Homo sapiens: one gene and its partners. The protein of the gene in region 4 interacts with the protein of the main gene of each other region in a biochemical or structural test. Each region holds a gene or a part of one and is shown on either strand. Other genes may lie near its edges. The genes, in order: UBE2D4, FBXO45, UBE2F, RBX1, CUL4B, DDB2 and UBE2G2.

Region 1 (3,500 bases), on a different chromosome or scaffold from region 4:
CCATCCATTTCTAAAGCTTTCCATCACCCCCAACAAATTCTGTATCCATGAAACAATATTTCTCCTATTTCCACCCCCCATCAGCCTCAGGTAATCTCTCATCTACCGTCTGTCTCTATGAATTTGCCTAGTCTAGATATTTCATGTAAGTGGAATCATATATTCATTCTTTTCTTTCCGGCTTATTTCACTTGGGATGTTTTCATGTTGTAATGTGTATCAGAACCATATTTTGTTTATCTGTCATCCACTGATGGGCACTTGGGTTGTTACCAGCTTCTGAAAATCATGAGTAATGGTGCCGTGAACATTGGCATACACATTCTGTCTCACTCTGTTTTTGATTCTTTGGTATATGTACCTCTGACACCACTCTCCTTGAACACATAGTATCTCCCCTCCCCACCTATTTTCCTATGGCTGCAGTTACTGAAGCCTCACAGGGAAGGATTGGTGTCCCAGAGCCCAAGAAGCCCACAAAGTGGAGGCAAGGTGAGTGGGCAGAGGACAGACCTGGAAACCCTAGTGCTGGGCAGCTCAGCCTCGGCCAGCACCTGTGAGGGACAGCAGAGGCCTGGAACAGGCAGTGCTGCTTCTCCCTCTCTCTCCCAAGAAGCTGCCCAGAGCTGCTGCTTCAGTCTCCGCCAGGGAAGAGTGGAAGTGGGAGAAAATAATAGGGACTGCCCTTCCCCTTGGCAGAGGCAAGTGGCCACTGCCCTACCCTGCCCTGCCCCTCCTCCACTGTCCTGCTCTGCTCCCAGGAGCTGCAGCAGCACCAGGTCCTCTAGACCAACTCCAACAATATTTACACCAGCACCCAAGTTTGACTTGGCCAAGGGCACTTTCCAGCAGCTGATGTGACTCCTCAGGCCAAGCTGGCTTTCTCATGCGCCAGAAGAGGGAAGCGGTGACTATGGGACATGAGAGGCAGTGCAGGTTCTACTTTGAGTATAAGCTGACCAGCCAAGCTGCTGTGAACTCATGGCCTAGACCTCAAATGAAAAGCCATTCAAGAGAAAATGAAGGGAAAAGCATTGATTGGTTTTCTTAAATACTGCTTGGCTGATAATTTGGTTGTTTGGTTTTGTTTGTGTTTGTTTGTTTTTCAGACAGAGTCTGTTGCCCAGGCTGGAGTGCAGTGGCACGATCTTGGCTCACTGCAACCTCTGCCTCCTGGGTTCAAGCGATTCTCCTGCCTCAGCCTCCCAAGTAGCTGGGATTACAGGCATGTGCCAGCATGCCCGGCTAATTTTTGTACTTTTAGTAGAGACGGGGTTTCGCCATGTTAGCCAGGCTAGTTTCAAACTCCTGACCTCAGGTGATCCACCCACCTTGGCTTCCCAAAGTGTTGGGATTACAGGCGTGAGCCACCGCACCTGGCCTAAGTTGGGGGGTCTTAATTAAAATGCTCCTACAACTTGAAGCCCCCCAAAATACTTACAGTCATCACCGACAGGTCCTGCAGAACACTGGGCAGGAGGATCCCTCTGCAAGTCGGTTAATTCCTAGAACATGAGAGAGTGGGTCAGAGCTGCTGTATGCTGGGGATGCTGCCTCTACATACCAATCTTGGTAGCTGGAAGGAATTCTCCTGGTGGGAGGAGGCTCCTAGGCCTCAGGAGGGGGTTAGAGACATGGTGGGTCATAGGACTCTACTCCCTGCTACAAAGATACCAGAGAAGTAGGTATGATCATTTCCATTTTATACATTAGGAAATTGAATTGTAAAGTGATGAAGTTACCTACTCAAGGTACAGAGCTGGAAGAGGGCAGGGCAAGAAGTCAGTCACATGTAGCTCTGCCTTACCCCCAAGCCTAGCCTCCTACCTCCTCAGGTAGAGGACATCCCCAGGCCCCCAGGTGCTGAAGATATGGAAGAAAAGCAGCCCAGGAGAGAGTTCTGGGAGAAGGATAGGTGCCAGGTTTTACTGCTAGGCTAATGAATTAATGCATGGAAGCAGCACCAAGGAAGTGCTAATCTCTCTACTTTACCTCCCCAACCACCATCCCAATCACCCTAGTCACCACTGGTTATGTGGCAAGTCCTAGGGCTCTGAATGTGGAGACTGGCACGTGAGCCAAAGTTTAACACTGCACCAGTGGGGATCAGGGATTATACCACGACTAGATTCCCTTTATGGGACACCAACCCTGAACTAAGCCAAACACTGTCCTATCTACACAAACTCTCCTGATTTCACCATATGTCTCTGGACATGCTGATCATTTCAGTAACCACATCTCTGGCCATCCTGCATTTATCCCCTTCACTTCAAATTTAATCAGCCAAGATGGAAGTATTAACATCACAGAAGCCAGCAAATGCTACAAATCAGGGCCATGTTTTCTCCCCGAGGGTTGATCTTTAAACATCTACCAGTATACCACTGGCCAATTCTCGATTAGTATCTAATATATCTGAACCCATTTCCTCATAAGTAAAATGAATTATACTTGGCAAGCACTCAGGAAGCAGCATTAGGAGTGGCCAAAAGAGAATTTAACTTGGGGAACAAGTGAGGTCATACAAGGGGACCAAGGACAGGCTCAGAAATGCAAGAGCTACAGAAATCTCTGTGGAACAGTTCCTTTTAGCTTACCTCTCTGCTATGTGCCCCTCAGCACCTCCACTATCACTGTGCAGGAGAATTGTTTATATTCATTGCTACACTGCATGGATAAATTAGCCCTATGACAGAACTGCTAAGGCAAATCCTGAAGAGGTTATATGAACAGCCAGGGGCAGGAAAAGCCAGCAGTACAGACCAATTCCCCTCCACCTCACAAGGTTTTCCCACACCTCTATGCTTTTGCACTGCCTATATGCAGAATCCATGTTCCCCCTTTAGAGGTGTGATGAACAGTTACACCAGCACTTAATGATCCCTGAAAGGCCACGTGTGGATCCCTATTGTTAGACTCCAACCAGCACCCAGGAGTTTCGAATACTAACTGGCATTTCAAGGAAGAATGGTGTGACTTGAAAGAAACTAGTCCACTCACACATCGAATTCCTGTGCTCACCTCAGGGTTAGAAGACTCAGGTCTGAATCCAAGCTCCGTCACTGAGGAAATCACTTTCACCTCTTTGGGCCTCAGTGTAATTACCTGTTAAGTTGTAATCATACTTGCCTGCCAACTTGCCGGTACTATTGTGTGGCTACAAATTTTGCATGTAAGTTTTTAATGTATATAATGTAAGCAAGAGCACCCAGTAAATATCAAGATAATAGTGGTATAGAGAATGCTACAATTAGTATTATAAAAAGGGAGAGGAATAAGTAGAATATATATATTTCTAGAAGAATACTTCGACACTGGTTGCCCACCCAGGAGGGGAACTGGATGGCTAGGGACAGTCTTGGGTGGGAGACTTTTCCCTGTATATCCTGTGCACATTTTGAACCATGGGAATTTATTACCAAATCATTAAATATATAAATATTTTATTAATTGTAAAGGATTAAGTAGATTAAGTTTATATAGTAATTACTATTACA
Region 2 (3,500 bases), on a different chromosome or scaffold from region 4:
TGTGCGTGCTGTGTGCTCAAAGGTGAAGCAGATTTGCAGATTTCACCAGGAGTAATCGTTACTTAGTTTCAACTTCTGTAAAATAGGGATAGTTCCTAGGATTAGTGTGAGGATTAAATGGGATAATACAAATACGACACAACACAAATACCCAACAAAATTAGCTTTTCATTTCTACTTTGTTAATATTTTGTTGGTAGGAGTGGTGGTGATGATGATTTGGAGGTTCTTAGATCCATAAAATGAGGTGTGGGTTAATCTGTGAGGTGGGCAAAGGGAGGAAAAAAGCAGATGTTGGCAGTTACTGTTAACAGGAAATACAGTGAAGGAAAGTAAATGACAATAGTAGGGGTTATAATCAGGTAGAATTAAATTTTGATTGCAAACATTAGGACTTTCTGTTTCCAATTTTGTAGATGCAACATCTTTTTATAAAGGCAAACTAAAAAGATGAAACATCCTTTTTTTTTTTTTGCTTACTTTTCCAAATGGGAAAAAACTGGATATATTCTGCTTCCAGTTTCGTTTAATAATCAGTGCTGCTGTTTTTTATAACAAACAGGTGTTTCAGAGTTGTGAACCACAAATTGTTTAATAAGCCTATTCTATATTCTACATTAGAATTTGTAGCCAGATTGGATTATTCATGATTCCACATTACATGTGGAACTGCTTTGTAAACTTTAAAAGCTGTGTGTCTTACTAAGGTGATTTTTAAAATTGTGGTGAAACATACATATTTATTATTTTAACCATTTGTAAGTATACAATTCAGTGGCATTAAATACATTCACACACCTCTCTCTATACCCAAAACTTTTTCCTCACCCCAACATAATCTCTATTATGTTCATTCCCTATTTCCTTCACTCCCCACCCCTGGTAAACTCTGCTCTACAACTATATATATTTGAGTATTCTAGATACTTTATATAGGTGGAATCATACCATTTAGCCTTTTGTGTCTGGCTCATTTCACTTAGCATAATATTTTCAGGGTCTATCTATGTTGTAGCATATATCAAAATTTCATTTCTGTTTATGGCTGAATAATATTCCATTGTACGGCCGGGCGCGATGGCTCATGCCTGTAATCCCAGCACTTTGGGAGGCTGAGGCAGGTGGATCACGAGGTCAGGAGATGGAGACCATCCTGGCTAACACGGTGAAACCCGTCTCTACTAAAAATACAAAAAATTAGCCGGGCGTGGTGGCGGGCACCTGTAGTCCCAGCTACTGGGGAGGCTGAGGCAGGAGAATGGCATGAACCCGGGAGGCGGAGCTTGCAGTGAGCTGAGATTGCACCACTGCACTCCAGCCTGGGCGACAGAGCAAGACTCCGTCTCAAAAAAAAAAAAAAAAAAAGTTCCGTTGTATGTATAGTATAGTAATTTGAGAAGCTGATTTAGATTGCTCTTTTTGGTAAAATATGCCAAGTTATAGATTTTAGTGTTAACCTTAAGAAAAACCTTTAAACAAAGAGTAAATAAAATCAATCTAGGTAGTGTTCAGGTGGAACATTTAAATTGTAAGTAATTAAGTGTAGATTCCATGTGAGTCTTAAAAACAAAACTATCAAAGTAAGCATTTGTGATGTGTTACCTAGGCTGGAGTGCAGTGGGCAGTGGTGCGATACCAGCTTTGCGCCACCACACCCAGCTAATTTTTGTATTTTTAATAGAGATGGGTTTTCACCATGTTGCCCAGGCTGGTCTTGAACTCCTGGGCTCAAGCAATCCGCCCGCCTCAGCCTCCCAAAGTGCTGGGATTATAGGCATGAGCCACTATGCCCGGCCAGATGTATGTCCTTTTTTTATAGATGTTTCTTCCTGACTAGAAAGCTTCCCTTCTGATTTTTCTAGATAGCTTTCAGGATAATATTCTTAATATTTTCAACTTCTTGATTTGTGTCTTGTTTCTTCTAGCTACACCCTTGGCAGATTTTCTTCTAACCTTTTGATATCTGTTTGCAGATAGGAGAAAGAATTCGAGTCATCTTGGACATGGAAGATAAGACTTTAGCTTTTGAACGTGGATATGAGTTCCTGGGGGTTGCTTTTAGAGGACTTCCAAAGGTCTGCTTATACCCAGCAGTTTCTGCTGTATATGGCAACACAGAAGTGACTTTGGTTTACCTTGGAAAACCTTTGGACGGATGACAGTGGCTTTCTTGTGATGACAGACAGAATGGAGGAGAGATCTGCTTATGGGAAGTAGAACCATGAAGTGACTGTCACACATGCATGTCCAAGAAACATCCTGAAAACACATGAAGTCGTAAACTGGAGAAGCAGCTCTACAGCAGAGATTATCTTCGTGTTTCCTCTTTCTACTGGGCCAGAAAAATCCTCAGGGTTGCAGTTGGTTGAGTGGGCAGTTGACATATGCATGTTGCACCCGATGTTGTCTCTAAGTTAGCAATGTGTTATTTCCAGCTTTAAAGGTGAGATTGTAGAGATGCTGTCAAAGGGATAAGGAAATAGCAAGATTTTTAAGTAGTGTGTTTGTGAAGACTGATCCCATTTTACAACTGCCTGTTCTTTCTCCAGTCCTTTTTTTTCCAGCCAGCTTGACTATTAGAAAAGTATGAAACTGGTTGGGTTTTATTTAATATTTTTAATATATTGAGAAGCATGGTCTGCCTGGACTGCACTTCTCTAAAAGTGAGATATAAAATTGTGCAGCTATTTTAAAAGTTGTATATAATATGTGTGTAAAAAAAAAAAACTGTAAAAAAGAAAGGACAAACAGGTTGTTTTGTTCTAGTTCTAATTTCTTAAAAACCACTACATGGTTACAAAATTGGAATAACATTTGGGGACAACTGGGTTAACTACAAAGAAGAGGATTTTAAGAGGAGATGTGTTGTATTGACTCATTTTGTATTATTTTTGGCTTACAGTTCCCATAGCTGTTAGAGTCTGGTTTGTTTTTGTTTTTACTCTCAAAATCATAGTAAAGATCTCTCAGTCTCCTGGCTAAAGATTGAAGGAAGGCAAATCTATTTCTAATTATACATATATCAGTAAGGATGATCTCAACATAATAGTAATGTGTATCTTTTGGTATCCAGTTTTATTTTTGGCCTTCTAAGAAAGTGTCTCATAACACAGAACATTGCCATTTGCTCTTGTAGGCCTCAAATATGAAAGCTATTAGTCATAGAGCCTAGGAAAAAAAGAATTGATTAATGGTCCTTTTATTTTGTAACCTTATAAATGCTGTAGATATTATCAAAAAAATTTTAATTTCATATTGTTTACATCATGCAACTAATCTAAGCCTCAAACTCGTTATTGGGGCTATAAAGAAAACGTTTACTTACCCAGCTGAAACAGGTTAAGAATATTCTTAATCTCATTATAGATAATTGCCCCCATGGGACTTGAAATACAACACCTTGTGCTGAAAACTTCAGGTTGGCAATATTTGAAGGTTTCGTTGTAGAAGAGTTTAACATTAACTCCTATTTTGACTTACAAATCTTGTTTCTCATCACT
Region 3 (3,500 bases), on a different chromosome or scaffold from region 4:
TTGCCCATATTTAAATTGTGTAATTGATCAGTCTGAAACCATGACCACACTCGAGATAAAAACATTTCCTGCCCGGCATGGTGGCTCACGTCTGTAGTCCCAGCACTTTGGGAGGCTGAGGCAGGTGGATTGCTTCCGCTCAGGAATTCAAGACCAGCCCGGGTAACATGGTGAAACCCTGTCTCTACAAAAAAAATTAAAATTAGCTGGACATGATGGTGCCTGCCTGTAGTCCTAGCTGCTTTAGGAGGTGGAGGGTGCTGAGGTGGGAGGATCTCTTGAACCTGGGAGTTTGAGCCTGCACTGAGCTCAAGTCACGCCACTGCACTCCAGCCTGGGCTACAGAGCAAGACCTGTCTCAAAAAACAAACAAAAAACATTTTTGTCATCCACAAGAGGGAAACTAGTGTGTCTGTGGTGACAGCTTCTAGCAGCTGAGTGGCTTTGGGCAGCCTACCTTCTGGGCCTCTGTTGTCCTGGGGTCCACATGTTAAAATGGAATGGGAGTGAGAGAAGTCCATTCCAACTTTGCAATTCTGAGAGCTTATGACCGTGAAAGTGCAGAGCTGTCTTTGAAACCTTTAGACCAGTGCTTCTTAAGGGGTTTAGGGTATGTGTATGTCCGTGTCCTCTAGTGGAAAAGACTGTGCAGTTCAGAAGATCGTATTCTATGTATTGTTTTCGTTTTGAAAAAATTCTTTAAATTTTTTTATCTTTTGAGATGCGGTTTCACTCTTGTTGCCCAGGCTGGAGTGCAATGGCACAATCACTGCAACCTCCACCTCCCGGGTTCAACCTATTCTTCTGCCTCAGCCTCCTGAGTAGCTGGGATTTACAGGCACCCGCCACCATGCCGAGCTAATTTTTTTTGGTATTTTTAGTGGAGATGGGGTTTTGCCATGTTGGGCAGGCTGGTCTAGAACTCCTGACCTCAGGTGACCCACCTGCCTCGGCCTACCGAAGTGCTGGGATTATAGGCATGAGCCACCATGCCTGGCCTGTACTGTTTTCATGGTACAAACAATAGAAAATAAAATCTGACAGCATTTAGGGGATATGCAGAAGATGGTGTGAGAAACTGTGTAAGAGACCTGGGTGAAAAATGGTTTCAAATGCCAATGAGGAACGGAGTATTCTTATTTGACTTTCAGGATCTTAGCCTCAACCTAAAATTTCTGTGCTTAGGTCAAGCTTTTCACATGGAATTTTTAGATCATTTTCTGTTGAAACGATCAGAGTGGTATTGAAATAAAATGATACGAAAGCAACAAAGGAAATTATGGAAATATTGAACTGGTGACAATTTATTTTGTTTTATTTTATTTTATTTTTTTGAGTCTCACTCTGTTGCCAGGCTGGAGTGCAGTGGTGCAATCTTAGCTCACTGCAACCTCTGCCTCCCGGCTTCAAGTGATTCTCCTGCCTCAGCCTCCCAAGTAGCTGGGACTACAGGTGTGGGCCACCACGCCCGGCTAATTTTTTTGTATTTTAGTAGAGACGGGGTTTCACCATGTTGGCCAGGGTGGTCTCGGTCTCCTGGCCTCATAATCCACCTGTCTCGTTCCCCTAAAGTGTTGGGATTACAGGCATGAGCCACGGCACCTGGCCCTGGTGACAAATATTTGTCCTCAGTCAAAAGAAGTTCCAGTGACCCTCTCTGACCATGGCAAGGAGGACGATTAATGTCAGTTTATGTTAGAAACAGAAGGCAGAGTCTAGCGGATAGTTACTTTGTTACAATTAGTGGGATCATAATGTAAGCTGTGGACTTTGAGTTATAATGTGTTAATGTGGGTTCATTAATTGTAACAAATGTACCCTCTGGTGGGAGATGTTGGTAATAGGGGAAGGATGTGCATGTGTTGGGGCAGGGGGCGTATGGGAAATCTCTGTACCTTCCTGTTAATTTTACTGTATACTTAAAACTGCCATTAAAAAATAAAATCTTAAACAAATTGTGGCATTTCTTCAACCGTCTCCCAGATAGCAAGGGGCATCACCTGTGTTTGGTCTTTGTTGTCCCTACTAGTGAGCTTGCAGCAGGGGAACCTGCAACACAGATGGGGTGGAAGCCACCAATGAACATAATCTACTTTGGGACATTAATTTTAATTTAGTCTTGATGTTGAAATTGCCAAAAAATATAAATAAAACACAAATGTAAGTAAATGCAACACAGCATGAATAAATGAGAAGATGCTTATTAAGGCTCTATCCACACCTTTATTAAAAGAGGAAGGAGAGCAAAGAGTGGTGCTCCTCTTCCACCAGAGGCTGTGCTGCTTCAGTTGGTGATGGGCCAGAACCTGGGACCGTACCATGTGTGTGCATGATCCCCTGCAGCAGGGAAGGGCCAACTTACCAGTGGGCAGTAATGGACTCATGTGGAACCCATTGGTGAGGGCATGCTGGTTGAGAAACTGTGGAGGCCACCCTAGACCTTGTGTTCCACGGGAGCTTTGTCACAACCACATCCCAGGACCTGGCACCCAGTGAGTGTGAAATGCATGACTCTTTTTAATTTTAAATTTTTTTTTTTTTTTTTTTTTTTTTTTGAGACAGGGTCTTGCCGTGTCACACAGGCTGGAGTGCAGTGGCACAATCACGGCTCACGGTATCCCCAATCTCCCAGGCTCAAGGGATCCTCCTACCTCAGCTTCCCGAGTAGCTGAGACTACAGGCACACACCACCACTCCTGGCTAATTTTTTTATATTTTTTGTAGAGACAGGGTTTTGCCATGTTGCCCAGGCTGGTCTTGAGCTCTTAGGCTCAAGCAATCCTCCTACCTTGGCCTCCCAAAGTGCTGGGATTATAGTTGTGAGCCACCGTGCCCAGCCATGACTCTCTTTTTTAAAAAATGTTAATTCATAATTTTAAAAGTTAGGCTTATAGAGGATGGCATAGAGCTTCTCAAATGTATTATGAAGGAATCCAATCTTATTAATGTGTACAAATTTTTTCCATAACTAAATTGTGGGAAAAAATCAAAATACAAAAGCACTTATACATTTTTCTCAGTGTCTAATTAGTCTCTGGAGACCTGGTCCTTAACCCTGCTTTCATTGCTGTCTTTCAGGGTAAAGGCAGCAGTAATGCTAACGCTAGCAAGTAAACTGAAGCGTGACGATGGTCTCAAAGGGTCCCGGACGGCAGCCACAGCGTCCGACTCGACTCGGAGGGTTTCTGTGAGAGACAAATTGCTTGTTAAAGGTAATGATCATTCGTGTGAACTGTTTTTATATCCTATAACAAAAGGAAGTTTGACTGGAGAGTCTTTGGGGATATAAAGCAACCTACTGCTGAATAGAAATACCTGTTTAAAAGATTTTAAAATATAATTGCTTATCTCTTATAGTGAAGGACATTGTACCACGCAGGTGATATGAGCACACTGTTGCAAGGAGATGGTATTAGAAACTGCAGTGTGTCTTATACACTTGGGATGTTCTTTGTCACGTCTGCCAAAATGCTAGCAGAAAGAATAAGGTGCTGAGAGTC
Region 4 (3,500 bases):
GCAGTGGCACGATCTCGGCTTACTGCAGTCTCCACCTTCTGGGTTCAAACAATTCTCCTGCCTCAGCTTCCCGAGTAGCTGGGATTACAGGTACCCGCCACCACACCTGGCTAATTTTTTGTATTTTTAGTAGAAATGGGGTTTCACTATGTTGGCCAGGCTGGTCTCGAGCTCCTGACCTCATGATCACCCATCTCGGCCCCCAAAGTGCTGGGATTACAGGTGTGAGCCACCGCATCTAGCTGCTAATTTTTTAATTTTTTGTAGAGATTGGGTCTTGCTGTGTTGTCCAGGCTTGTCTTGAACTCCTGGACTCAAGCAATCCTCCTGCCTTGCCCTTCCAAAACACTGAGCTTACAGGTGTGAGCCACTGCCCCTGGCCACACACTTTTATTATAGACACTGAGGAGAAGTCTGAGTGCCATAACTTAAAAAAAAAAAAAGGATTTATATGGGAAAAGAACTTAGCAAGTAAAGAAAAAAATGGATTTATCATTTTTATAAAGACAATTTTTGTTAAAGATGAAAGTAAGAATCTAGATTTAGCAACGGTTGTATTTTAATAAATCTTGTCTGACCTTAAATGAGTAATTATATACATAGCTCTAAGTAAATAAGAATGATTATGGCTGTGCCCTAGTCGGATTCTGAAGACTTCCTCTTTTAAGTCCATATTGATTCTGCATGCCCTCCTGTACCTTTGTATTTATTTTATTTTACACTGTCTCCTTCCTTGGTTGTATTAAGGAGTTGCTGAAAAATCAAATATGTGAGGTTTTATTTTCTCTATTACCTCTGGTAATCTTATTCCTGATGATGGGGAATCTTCATCATCTTAGACCCAGCCTTGGCCCAGAAGATGTTAGCATCTACCTAAAACTACAGATCCATCAGTATTTTGGTTTGGTTTGGTTTGGTTTGGTTTGGTTTGGTTTGGTTTGGTTTGGTTTGTTTGAGACAGAGTCTTGCTCTGTTGCCTCGGCTGGAGTGCAGTGGCATGATCTCGGTGCACTGCAACCTCTGCCTCCCAGGTTCAAGCTATTCTCCTGCCTCAGCCTCCTGAGCAGCTGAGACTGCAGGTATGCACCAGCATGCCCAGCTAATTTTTGTATTTTTAGTAGAAACAGGGTTTCACCATGTTGGCCAGTCTGGTCTCTTTAACTCCTGACCTCGAGTGATCCACCCGGCTCGGCCTCCCAAAGTGCTGGGATTACAGGCGTGAGCCACCACGCCCGGCCCCGTCAGTGTTTTGAAAGTGTAATCTGTCTACTCTTGAGATGAAGCCATTGCTTCCTTAACAGTTCTTTGGTGGTACAGCGTTTTTATCAAAGCTTAAAGGTCCCCAAGCTTTATAAATCACATGATAGGCTTCTGCCTTGGCAGGGGTGTGACATGAACCCGTTATGTGCCACTGTCAACCTGTTCTGGGTTGACAGTGAACAGTTCCTGCCCGTTTAAACTAACTGGACTCAACCCCTGTACTTACTCTCTGCAACAAAAGCTGGAAAACTTTTGTATTGAGCACATTTTACACTAATATTTAATCATTTTCCCTGCTATATCCCTTCTTATTTGGTACTCTAGATTGCAGTAATATCCCTCCTATACATTTTTGTTCTTTGTTAGGAATTTTGTAGTAAAGAATGAATCTGGCCGGGCTCGGTGGCTCACGCCTATAATCCCAGTACTTTGGGAGGCCAGGACGCGTGGATCGTGTGAGGCCAGAAGTGCAAGACCAGCCTGGGCAACGTGGGGAAACCCCATCTCTACTAAAAATACAAAAAATAGCCAGGCATGGTGGCGCATGCCTGTAGTCCCAGCTACTTGGGAGGCTGAGGCGGGAGAATCACTTGAACCTGGGAGACAGAGGTTGCAGTGAGCCAAGATTGCACCAGTGCCCTCCGGCCTGGGGGGACAAAGCTAGACTCTGTCTAAAAGAAAAAAAGGAATGAATCTTGGTCGGATGCAGTGGCTCACGCCTGTAATCTCAGCACCATGGGAGGCCGAGGCAGGCAGATCACTTGAGGTCAGGAGTTAAAGACCAGCCTGGCCAACATGGTGAAACCCCGTCTCTACTAAAAATACAAAAAATTAGCTTGGTATGGTAGTGCACACCTGTAATCCCTGCTACTTGGGAGGCTGAGGTGAGAGAATAGCTGGAACCCGGGAGGTGGAGGTTGCAGTGTGGAGATTGTGCCACTGCCCTTCAGCCTGGGCAACAGAGCGAGACTGTCTAAAAAAAAAAGAATGAATCTGTATTTGTCCCGTATTTCTTCTATTTATAGAAATAGTTTTTGTTTGCTTGTTCAAGTACCAAGAGCCTAATTTGCACTTGGCATAGAAAGACCAGGTCCCTGCTCTGTGGGAGCTTTGAGTTGAGGGGGAAGGAGGGAGGTCAGGTATGTAAAGAGATACTCATAATTGATGTGTTAAGAGTGCCTGAAGGAGAGGAAAATGACTCAGGGTGGAAGAGTCAGGAAAAGCTTCAGTCAAGAAGTAGGGATTTAAGCTGGGTCTTGAAGGGTGGGGAGGACTTGAGAGTGATAGGAGGAGGAGCATGTTCCAGGTATGGCAGGGACGAAGGAAAGGACTCTACCGTGAAGGGAGCCTGAAGGGTTCTTTAGGTTAGTAGTGCCATGGCCACAGTCAAAAGAAAGACCCAGATCAAATTTAAACACGATAATGTACCTTGAAACAGTTTTGATTTTCACTTTAATAATTGTGGCTCTTATTTAGCTAATTTTATAATACATAGTCTTCCTCTAAGTTAGAGGATCCAGCTTAAAGGACATCATATTTACTTTTCTCTGCCATTCTTTTAATTATAGTAGTGTATTCCAGTTTCAATAAGTTCTTAAATACACTGCATAGACCCTAGATCCCTTTTTTGTTTGTTTTTAAGATGGAGTCTCGCTCTTTCACCCAGGGTAGAGTGCAGTGGCGCGATCCCAGCTCACTGCAACCTCTGCCTGCCAGGTTCCAGCGATTCTCCTGCCTCAGCCTCTCTAGTAGCTGGGATTATAGGCATGCGCCACCCACCACACCCGGTTAATTGTTTGTATTTTTAGAAGAGACAGAGTTTCGCCATGTTGGCCAGGCTGGTCTCGAACTCCTGACCTCAGATGATCTGCCTGCCTCGACTTCCCAAAGTGCTGGGATTACAGACATGAGCCACCACGCCCGGCCGAGCCACCGTGCCTGGCCTTTTTTTTTTTTTTTTTTTTTTTGATAACAAGGTTTTGCTCTGTCACCTAGGCTGGAGTGCAGTGGTACGATCATGGTGCACTGCAGCCTCAACCGCCTGTGCTCAAGCCATTCTCCTGCCTCAGCCTCCTTAGTAGCTGGGACCACAGGCATGTGCTACCACAACTGGCTAATTTTTTTATTTCTAGAGATGAGATGTTGCTGTGTTGCCCAGCCTGGTCTTGAATTCGTGGGCTAAAGTGATCCTGCTGCCTTGGCCTCCCAAAGTGCTGGGATTACAGGTGTGAGCGACTGTG
Region 5 (3,303 bases), on a different chromosome or scaffold from region 4:
AAATGAAGCAGTGTAATTAATGGAAATAGTTGAGTGGACTTTTTCTCAGTGGTTAACATGCCCATTTTAAAGAGTAATACTTACCTTTAAGAAGAATGTTGTTGAACTCTTTGCATGTTATTTAGTATGATGTGCAGAAAACACTTAAGAACGTACCTGGTCTTCATGAATTCCTCTTTGGAACTGGGAAAGAGATCCCTGTGGCTATTAAAAAGGGGGGAGGGTTCTTACACACCATTAATTATGAAGCAAAAGGTTTATTTGCTTAAAATGTCATTTAAAGATACTTAAACTGCATGCAAACTTTATTTACTGTACAGAGTTCTGGATGTATTTATCAAATAGAAAAACCACCCTTGACTTGGTTGTTCACCCGTTTTGTGATTTCCCTTGAAAAGAGAAATGAATTGTCATAGCTATTGATATTTTACTAGGTGATGTTCTGTTACACTGAAAGGGATGTTTTTTAAAAAAAATTATTTGGAAACAAGTTTTCAAGTAGGGGGACAGTTGCTTACATAATATCTTGTATATTCACATCCTAAAAATTTTCATTTATGAGTATGGGATGTGTGTATATGGCTTAGCCCCAAGTTAACTGTGCTGATTAACAAGTACTTATAAAAATAGCTAAAGTAGAAAATTAATGATCAGTTGTACTAGAGGAACATCATAGAAGAGAAAAATCCAACTCTTTATATTAAAAATGAATACAATAAGAAAATTGCAAAAGAGACCAAAATGAACGTGTTTTGTAAATTGTTACAGGAGCAAAAACTTTGCAACTAGTTTTCAACATACTTTAGACTTTAAATGTTGTTTGGACAGTTTTGTCTTCAACTTGGACCAATTGTAGATTGTTACAGGCTTCCTAGGATTTAGCATTCCTATTTTCTCTACCAAAGTTTTTTTTAGAAGCATCCCAACTCTTCTCTTTGTTGATAAATAAGCCTTTCCTGTCATCTTCATTTTAACTTGCTAAAACCCTAGATACAAAGGTCCTCCCTCATTTTTCCCACAGAGCCCCTGTTTGGGAATTTGAGATTCTGTGTCATGCTGGTTTTCCTTTCAGAATTGCTTGAAATCGAGTTCTCTTAGCCACTGGACACCTAGTTTTCAGGAGAATGTCCCAAGATTGTTTATATATACAAAATGGCAAAAGTACTGTTTTTCGAATTGATAATTCAAGCAAAGGCTTCTCTTTACTGTCACTGATTTTTTTTTGTTTTTATTTTGTTTCCTTGTTTCTATTTCCTTGAAGCTTTGAAGGGAGGAGAAGCAGAAAATTTTGTTTATGTTTGTTAAAAATCAGAACTACTTAATGCTTTTTGCCACAGCATATTTCCTTGCCTGTTGGAGCCGTTAGGAAGATTACCTATGTCCTAATCTTCAACCTGAGAAGATTTTTGACTCTTGTGTCTACTGTTGATTGTTTGCTTGAGTTCTCAAAGACCTGTGGCCAGGTATTTTAAAAAGTCGTCTATTTCTTTCTAGTTGCATCAACTTGCACACTGGTGTCTAACTATATGTGGTATTCGGAACTTGTAATTCTTATTGAGCAGCCATTGCCTATATTTTCTCAGCTCCTCACTGATTTCTTTATATGAGCTCAGCTGACAAGCAAATGCAGCTATTTTGTTTACCCTCTCTTCATACCGGACCATCAACAACAGTGTTCTAACTCATCCCTGATGGTCTGTGAGATGTAGACTATTACACAAGATTCAAGTTACTCGTAAGCAACTTTTAGATAGAGTTGGTCCTGTTAGGAGGAGACTCTTGATGTCACCTTCAGTATCTTGAAAGCGGGTCCCCTCCCCGAGGCTCTTAATTCTTTGAAAACTTGATGCTGTTTCAGCTGAAAAATTAGCAAGACTGTTAAAAAAAAAAAGTTGAGGGGAGCTGTTTAAGAAACTGAAAAGTAATTGCAAACTACATTGGATAATTGTGACTTTCAGTTGTTGTTCTGTATCAGTTGAATTTTTGTGCTCTTTTCCCTGTGTACGTGGTGGTTCTATTTTTCTCCAATAAAACTTTTATTTAAAAAAAGTTTCTAGAGAAGATCTTTAAAATTCAAGTATTGTAAGAAAGTTATAAAATCACAGGACTTAAAATCTTCCTAACAACTTCTAATGAACTCACATTTGTTGATTTTGTTATTTTTAAACTTTTTAAAAATTTTGTAATGGTTTTGTGGTAATGCTATAAGAGTATGGGGGAGGGCATGGTTAACAGGGTGAGGAAAATTCCCAGGAATCCTCAAGGTGGATAATTATTCTTAAACATGCGGATACAAGTATAAACATTGCTTCATTCAAATCCTCAGTGTCAAATTGTTTCATAAAGTCAATATGAAATGAGTCTAGATTTGAGTTCAGGGGAGAAGAAAAGATTACTCTTAGTTATGGCATTTGCTCTGCCTTTTCTGTTAATAGTTTTTTGAGTTCTGGGCCAGATACTCTCAGAGTAAGATGTTCCTCAAAGTTTTTGAACCCAGTTCCTGAGTCTGCTTGAATGGTCTTAATATGATGTCTAGCCATACTCTTGAAATTTTTGCTGTGTATGTGAGTGTACAGTTCAGAAAACCAGTTTATCTGGGCATCTGGATCTAAAGATTTGAGAAGTTTGTTTTTTAATCTGGATATTCATAAATCTTTTAAAATGAGCTGGTCTTTGTTTTCATGACCACTCTGTTTAATGCTGTGAATGGCAGGAGTGTTGTGAGCGTGTTCTATTCTCTTATTTACATAAAATTGCCAAAACAAATTGTTCATTAAAAAGAAAAGAGCAGTACTGATGAAAATTTGCATAATTATGCTTTGTAAAATGATATCTTGCTAATGCTTCATTAATGAATATTTTTCAGTGTCCTACAAAAAAACACCTGCTTTACATTTGAATACTGAAGTTTGTTCACCTGCAAACACTTGGTTGAAATCAAACACTTTGCTCAATTATTTTCCTTTTTCCCCTTGCTATTATAAAAAAGGGTATTTCTTCTTTTGAATGGACACATAATGTACCTTTATGTTTAACAATCCTTAGAAGTCATCTCTAGCATAGTGAAAAAGACTCTGACCTTTCTTTTGTAAAACCGTTTCTATTGGATGTAAAATATAAGAATGTGCTGCACTGGCATGTTAGAACTTAATAGTTTTGCCAGCTATAACAACAACAGATCCTCTTCATTTGTTCTCTAATTTCAAAACTTTTCTTTAATTTTTAAATTTTTTATTGTGGTAAAGTACACACAAAATTTACCATTCTAACCATGATAAAGTATACAATTCTGACATTTAGTAC
Region 6 (3,500 bases), on a different chromosome or scaffold from region 4:
TGCCCACAGTGGGGAAGGGCTGATGTGGTAAGCCTGCCACCCCAGATCGCTCCTGGCCCGAGCACAGAGCATCTCTTACCCATTGGCTCTCTCTCTTCCTTTTATCCCACTTCTGCCATCCCATATGGTTGAGTTTTCTGTCTCGCTGATAAGATATTTTTCTGAGTTTTTTCAGCCCAGCTCTGATCTCACTGTGAGAATTTTCTAAGATCCTGACCCTCTGTTCTGTCTTCTCAGCTTCAGTTACCTGTGTACAGTTGACCCACAAACCTTCATTTTTTATTTTTTTATTATTTTTTTTAAGGCAGGGTCTCGCTCTGTCACCCAGGTGGGAGTACAGTGGGGCAAGCATGGTTCATTACAGCCTTGATCTCCCAGGCTCAAGCGATCCTCCTGCCTCACTTTTTTTTTTTTTGTAGAGACAGGGTATTCTTGTGTTACCCAGGCTGATCCTTTTTTTTTTTTTTTTTTTTTTTCTTGAAACGGTCTTGCTCTGTCACCCAGGCTGGAGTGCAGTGGCACAAACATAGCTCACTGCAGCCTCAACCTCCTGGGTTCAAGCAATCCTTCCGCCTTAGCCTCGGAAGTAGATTGGACTACAGGTATGCGCCACCATACCCAGCTAATTTTTTTATTTTTTATAGAGATGGGGTTTTGCCATGTTGCCCAAGCTGGTCTTGAACTCCTAGGTTGAAGCCATCCCCCAACCTTGGCCTCCCAAAGTGCTAGGATTACAGGCATGAGCCACTGCGCCTGGCAACTTTGCCTTCTTAGTTTGTCTTGCAGGTTTCAGTGCTTCTAATAATAAAAATAAGTCTTTTATTTTCCCACCTTTTCTCAGGCTCTTGTTAATAGCTTCTCTATCATTAGTCCCCAACACTAATAGCTTTCAAGTCCTTTGATGCCTTTTTGCCTAAGCCCCCATGCAGACTGAGCTCTGCTAGTTCTGCATTCTTTTCCAAAACTACAGATCCTCTTCAGATCTTCAGGTTTTATGCCTATACTTCTCTGGTCAGTTCAGAATAGTGGTGGGGAGCGCCAGTTTCCAGCAGCCAGACCCCCCGGGTTAGAATCCTTGGGCAAATTACTTATATTTTGGATCTGTTTCCTCATCTGCAAAAAGGGAATACTAGTCTCTAACTGATAGGGTTGTTGTGAAGATGAGTCAGTATACTTAAAGCACTTGGCCCCATGCCCAGCACCTGGTAAGTACTGGTAAGTATTCAATAAATGATGATTGAATATTGAGTGGCCCCCACGTACCTCAATCACATCCAAGCTCTTAATAAATAATGTCAAGAATCCTTCCCCAGTTGGTGTTCCTGTTAATCCATCAGTGTTCCCGATAATCCATCTGTCTGCATGTCCCAGTTTGTATCTAGCCAGGTGTCGTAAGTCATTACAGCTTCCTGTGTGTGATTTGTGACTTATTTCTAAGCCTTCGCATGTACTATTTCTTCCTTCCTGCTAACCATGTCTTTCTTCCTTCAAAACTTCCTTGAGAAGTTTAGGAAAATCCCATCCAATTCTGCCATTTTAATAACTGCCAGATTTGTTTTTAGTGGGGTGATCTGGGGAATGTGGGTTTCCTTCTCTTTTTTAGCCATTAGCAATTTTACACTCAGCTCTTAGTTATTCGTGTTGATGGAGACAGGATGACAGTGGGGCTCCTCCAGAACTCAAGTCCTGTTAGGGTTTGGTCACCAGAGGCTTTTTCTGCTTTGTTGTAGGCCTCTTAGGTCAGTATCTGGGTCAGGCTGATGTTAAAACGTTTACCAGTTGGTATGATCTTAGGAAATGCAAATGAGGGAGAAGGCCTGAAGGTGCCCTAAGGGCCAGGGAGGCCAGCTAGGGATTAAAAATGTGCAATGGCAGAGGCACACACAACCTAAAACCATTCTTGTAGTTTTCTGTAAGACTTATCTCCATTATTAGGTTGGCTTGTTACTGGCAAATACTACTTTTTTTTTTTTTTTTTTGAGAGTCTTGCTCTGTCACCTAGGCTGGAGTGCAGTGACATGATCTTCACTCACTGCAACCTCCGCCTCCCGGGTTCAAGTGATTCCCCTGCCTCAGCCTCCCAAGTAGCTGGGACTACAGGCATGTACCACCACGCCCAGCTAATTTTTTTTTTGGTATTTTTAGTAGGGACGGGGTTTCACCATGTTAGCCAGGATGGTCTCGATCTCCTGACCTCGTGATCCGCCTGCCTCAGCCTCCCAAAGTGTTGAGATTACAGGTGTGAGCCACTGCACTCAGCCCAAAGAATACTTTTGATGTTCCTCTTTGTTCATATTTGTTTTTGATGTCCCCCTTGATCATGTTCTGTGTTTACCCTCATGGCCGGCCTCTCCATCTCCTAGGCAGCCTGGCATCCTCGCTACAACCTCATTGTTGTGGGCCGATACCCAGATCCTAATTTCAAAAGTTGTACCCCTTATGAATTGAGGACGATCGACGTGTTCGATGGAAACTCAGGGAAGATGATGTGTCAGCTCTATGACCCAGAATCTTCTGGCATCAGTTCGGTGAGGCTTGGGTCCTCAAATAATGATGGGAGGAAGCAGGGATTCAACCTACCTTATTGACCAAAAGTGACCAGAAATCAGGTGTCTCTGCTAATACCTTCACCCTCTCCTCATGTTGACACTCTTGTCTCTGCAGCTTAATGAATTCAATCCCATGGGGGACACGCTGGCCTCTGCAATGGGTGAGTAGGAGGAGAATGTCTCTGACTTGCCAAGTCCGATCCTACTTCCCAAGGTTCAGTGCGGGCCAGCCTCAGCCCCGCCCTGCCACATTCACCCCAGGGCAGTGGCCCACGAAGAAGATGGCTGGGAGACAGTGGTCTCTATAGCCAAGGCCCTCCATTCCTCTGGCTTTGTCTTGGTCATGCAATGCCTGGCTACTGTCCAGTTTCCTAGTATTTCTTTTTTTTTTTTGAGACGGAGTCTCGCTCTGTCCCCCCGGGCTGGAGTGCAGTGGCGTGATCTTGGCTCAATGCAAGCTCCGCCTCCTGGGTTCACGCCATTCTCCTGCCTCAACCTCTCGAGTAGCTAGGACTACAGGTGCCCGCTACCACGCCCAGCTAATTTTTTGTATTTTTAGTAGAGACAGGGTTTCACCGTGTTAGCCAGGATGGTCTCGGTCTCCTGACCTCGTGATCCGCCCACCTCAGCCTCCCAAAGTGCTGGGATTACAGACTTGAGCCACCGCGCCCGGCCTTCCTAGTATTTCTTTACCAAATTGTAGGTTTGCGGGCCAGCCCCAGGCTCTGAGAGATTGGTAACAGAAAGTGTAAGTCAGACTGGTCTCACTCTTCCTAGGTTACCACATTCTCATCTGGAGCCAGGAGGAAGCCAGGACACGGAAGTGAGAGACACTAAAGAAGGTGTGGGCCAGACAAGGCCTTGGAGCCCACACATGGGATCAAGTCCTGCAAGCAGAGGTGGCGATTTGTTAAAGGGCCAAAAGTATCCAAGGTTAGGGTTGGAGCAGGG
Region 7 (3,500 bases), on a different chromosome or scaffold from region 4:
GTCTGGGGAGGTGACAGCAGTCAGGCATGAACCAGACAAGAAGGTCACCAAGCCAGCTGATTTGGGAATGCTGGGGCAGGACACAGAGGACAGCAAGCGCCAAGGGACTCCACGCCTTGTCCGGCCACTGGGGATGAACAGCTGTCTAGGACTCCTTCTGTCCCACATAAGTGCATCAATGAAAGAGGGCACCCACCCTCTCTGCAGCTACACCCCCGTCACCGTGGCTTAGTGGCAATGGGGTCACGGGCCATGGACCCTAGAGCTGGGCAAGACCTGTAACCATCTGTCTAGAAGATGCTGATAAACCTCTCTGTTTTGATCCAAATAAGTCAAAGAGAGGCAAAGTGACTGGGCCAAGAGCAGCAGGCCATGCTAGCACCCACAGCCACGGTGGCCACATCCCCTGGTGTGCCGCCATCCCAGCCACGCTCGATTTGATTGCAGGCTCAGACTCCACCATGAGCGTGGCAGGGTCAGCAGAGTTATTCCCGGTGTTTAAAGACACAGCCTGCGGACTCTCATTATTTAGTCCTCTCATTCACTAATCTGTTCTATTCTCCATCCTAATCCCTCAACCCTGGTCTTCCAAGGTAAAGATTTCAGTGCATCTTTGACATGTCTGTATCTTCAGACAAGGGCCCTAACATATCAAAGGCACTTAGTGTTTGTTGCTTAGATATCTAAAATGACATTTTCTTCACTGGCCCTTAAGGCAAGCACAACAGCAAAAACCAACAGCCGTTCGACTTCTGTGAGGCAAGCACGGGTTTTAGAAATACTAGGGTAGAGAGGCGGCCCTGGAAGCCATCAAAGAATAAAGAGAAAAAGAAGAAACTTATCACCAAGGAGCAAAGACTTGGCCAGATGTCTGCCAAAATAGCAGGGTGAGACAAATCGATGGGAGGACAGTTAATTCCCTAATAGGCATTTTAAGTGCACTTGTAAACGGCCTCTTGTTTGTGAAGGGTCTGGAACAGGACCAAAACCCACAAACTCACTAGGATCTTCAAGCAGGGGAATTCCAAACTAATGCAAAAAGCCTTGTTCAAACACAGAAGTGCTCTACCTAAAAATAGTTCTAATTACTTTTTAAGACAGGTTTTCAAAATATTGGTTTAATTTTACACTGTTTATTTAAAATTGGTAATAGTTACCCTAATCGATTTTTAACAATGAACATTTTTTTAAAACCACACTGGACGGCTCAACTGTTCCTTTAATGAGCTTCCAAATAGGCCTACGGAGGAGCCAACACCCCACAAATAACTGCAGACACGACAGGCGCCTTCAACCTCTACACACAGACAGGCCTCCCGCCACTCTGGGCCCCTGCAGCAGGCGTGCTGCCCCGCTGGCATGAGTGCAGGTGCGCCTGCATTAACACATGAAACAAGCAGGTTACACATCAGTTCATGTATATGATCTCCTGCTTCTACAGAAATAAAAAGAGCTGCCCCGATACAAGTATACAGCCGCACAGTCCACTAATGAGGACAGCCCAGACTGTGGGACTCGCCATCCATCTCATAACTGCCTTGGGGGCCACATTACACACAAACACAGATTCCAGAAACCTTCAGACACCGAAAAAACATGTGCCATAGGCCCAAGCAATTAGGATATTACAAATGATCAGGAAATGGCAGGCGTGCTGTACCATCTGAATAGCGTTTGATGATTTTTTAAAAACATTTTGTTTATCCAAAATACTAATTTTCATATCAATTTAACCTCCACAGACAACACTTAGCTGCAATCTGTTTCTCAGACCAACCCATAGAGCATTAAGAATTAATGTGATCCAAGCAACTGGCGAATTCCAAAAGCATCATGAAGCTTAAGATCACTTCAAGCCAGAGCCCACACTTGTTTCACAGCCCTCACTTTTCCGGTCCTTGCCCTCTAGAGCACTTCTCAATGCAACAAAATCCAACCCAAGACCTTGCTGCAAATTAAAAGACCTCACTAATGAGATAACAAAGACTGGGCTTGGCGCGGTGGCTCACACCTGTTATCCCAGCACTCTGGGAGGCCAAGGCAGGCGGAACACCTGAGGTCAGAAGTTCGAGACCAGCCTGGCCAACATGGGGAAACCCTGTCTCTACTAAAAATACAAAAATTAGCCAGGCACGGTGGTGGGTACCTGTAATCCCAGCTACTAGGGAGGCTGAGGCAGGAGAATCGCTTGAACCCAAGGGGCAGGAGTTGCAGTGAGCCAAGGTTGTGCCACCGCACTCCAGCCTGGGCAACAAGGGCGAAACTCCATCTCAAAAAAAAAAAAGAAAGAAAGAAAAAGAAAAGAAAGAAAACAGAGACTGATTACAAATTTCAACTTCCTAAATTTTATTTAACCTCACTTTGCTGAAAATACACTAAGAATGGCCAAAAATTGCACATCTAAGGTAGAAAGAAGAAAAAGCAAAGTGAGTCAAGGCCATAGAACACTCTAAAATCAGGGGTCCATGTGTTTCTCTTTCCAAGCAACGTCACCCTAAGTTAAATGCCACGAATCCCAGAACCACACTGCTCACTTACTAAGCCATGTCTTGGGTCGGAAAGAACACAAGGCCAACAAGTCCAGACAAGGCAACAGAAAAAGGAGATGCAGCACACGAAGATACGAACTGGGAGGAAAGGAGAAGAAAAAGAAGTCCTGGCCCAAAGGCAGGGCAGGCAAGGCTGCGCTAACATGCCTGGTGTGGTCAGACACATCTTTGAGGACCCTTTTCTCGTCAAAATTTCACACCTGAAGGGGCTACTTCTGGAAGCCAAAGCCACCTACGCCATTTGAGGTTATTTTAACCACGATCATACAACATTCCAAAATTACCACCTTAAAACTCTCAAATATATAATACATATATTACATAATTATAACTAAACCTTTGACTGGCTCTAAGGAAACACTCATTTCTTTTGGATCAATGCTCAGGTTCTCTGCTTTCAGACCAGCAGCCTAGACGAGAGCTGGGCATTACTGGAGAACTCAGTCTTTTTTCCAGCTGATGCTTTTGGACACAGTCACACTGCTGATGTGATTCTTACATCTGACTTCCAGCAAAGCCCTAAAAACTAGTACACCTAAAATTAACTTACATGATCAATGCCTCCCATTCAAAAAAGTTCTCTTCATTCATGGGGCCTGTAGGGTGAGAAAAAATTTCACAACATTTTAACTTTGAAGGAACTTTGGCAATTAAAAGTAAATTATAAGGAAGTTAACTTTGGTACCTTACCTGCTACAATTCCTTCCGGAGGATTCAGTGTTAATTCTATAAAATTAATAAGTAAAACCATTACCAAACAGAATAAATGTTACATTGTCATTTTAACAAAACACCTTTACAAAATATATAAGCCTATAAACCATAGAATATGCATATTAACAAGTGAAAATTCTGTTTGCCCAAAGTGAATACCTAGTACAATAACGGTTCTGATAACAACTACACAAAGTTTTTTTGTTTTTTTTTTGTTTTTTTTTGAGACGGAGTCTC

The links.
Region 1: the proteins of RBX1 (region 4) and UBE2D4 form a complex in vitro, tested with the Homo sapiens proteins (2 studies listed by BioGRID).
Region 2: the proteins of RBX1 (region 4) and FBXO45 form a complex in vitro, tested with the Homo sapiens proteins (one study listed by BioGRID).
Region 3: the proteins of RBX1 (region 4) and UBE2F form a complex in vitro, tested with the Homo sapiens proteins (2 studies listed by BioGRID).
Region 5: the proteins of RBX1 (region 4) and CUL4B form a complex in vitro, tested with the Homo sapiens proteins (4 studies listed by BioGRID, with this or other methods).
Region 6: the proteins of RBX1 (region 4) and DDB2 form a complex in vitro, tested with the Homo sapiens proteins (2 studies listed by BioGRID, with this or other methods).
Region 7: the proteins of RBX1 (region 4) and UBE2G2 form a complex in vitro, tested with the Homo sapiens proteins (3 studies listed by BioGRID).

The regions. Positions count from the first base shown.
Region 1 is NC_000007.14:43,936,436-43,939,935, reverse strand, and holds part of UBE2D4 (ubiquitin-conjugating enzyme E2 D4), read right to left. Parts: intron 1,506-3,500; coding exon 1,442-1,505; intron 1-1,441. UniProt on the Homo sapiens protein: Accepts ubiquitin from the E1 complex and catalyzes its covalent attachment to other proteins. In vitro able to promote polyubiquitination using all 7 ubiquitin Lys residues, but may prefer 'Lys-11' and 'Lys-48'-linked polyubiquitination.
Region 2 is NC_000003.12:196,582,160-196,585,659, forward strand, and holds part of FBXO45 (F-box/SPRY domain-containing protein 1), read left to right. Parts: intron 1-1,973; coding exon 1,974-2,159; 3' UTR 2,160-3,500. UniProt on the Homo sapiens protein: Component of E3 ubiquitin ligase complex consisting of FBXO45, MYCBP2 and SKP1. Functions in substrate recognition but also plays an important role in assembly of the complex.
Region 3 is NC_000002.12:237,970,014-237,973,513, forward strand, and holds part of UBE2F (NEDD8-conjugating enzyme UBE2F), read left to right. Parts: intron 1-3,078; 5' UTR 3,079-3,094; coding exon 3,095-3,212; intron 3,213-3,500. UniProt on the Homo sapiens protein: Accepts the ubiquitin-like protein NEDD8 from the UBA3-NAE1 E1 complex and catalyzes its covalent attachment to other proteins. Together with the E3 ubiquitin ligase RNF7/RBX2, specifically neddylates cullin-5 (CUL5).
Region 4 is NC_000022.11:40,957,878-40,961,377, forward strand, and holds part of RBX1 (E3 ubiquitin-protein ligase RBX1), read left to right. Parts: intron 1-3,500. UniProt on the Homo sapiens protein: E3 ubiquitin ligase component of multiple cullin-RING-based E3 ubiquitin-protein ligase (CRLs) complexes which mediate the ubiquitination and subsequent proteasomal degradation of target proteins, including proteins involved in cell cycle progression, signal transduction, transcription and transcription-coupled nucleotide excision repair.
Region 5 is NC_000023.11:120,523,358-120,526,660, reverse strand, and holds the end of CUL4B (cullin-4B), read left to right. Parts: 3' UTR 1-2,803; downstream 2,804-3,303.
Region 6 is NC_000011.10:47,235,474-47,238,973, forward strand, and holds part of DDB2 (DNA damage-binding protein 2), read left to right. Parts: intron 1-2,363; coding exon 2,364-2,528; intron 2,529-2,664; coding exon 2,665-2,710; intron 2,711-3,326; coding exon 3,327-3,376; 3' UTR 3,377-3,500.
Region 7 is NC_000021.9:44,784,821-44,788,320, forward strand, and holds part of UBE2G2 (ubiquitin-conjugating enzyme E2 G2), read right to left. Parts: intron 3,276-3,500; coding exon 3,240-3,275; intron 3,146-3,239; coding exon 3,100-3,145; intron 1-3,099. UniProt on the Homo sapiens protein: Accepts ubiquitin from the E1 complex and catalyzes its covalent attachment to other proteins. In vitro catalyzes 'Lys-48'-linked polyubiquitination. Involved in endoplasmic reticulum-associated degradation (ERAD).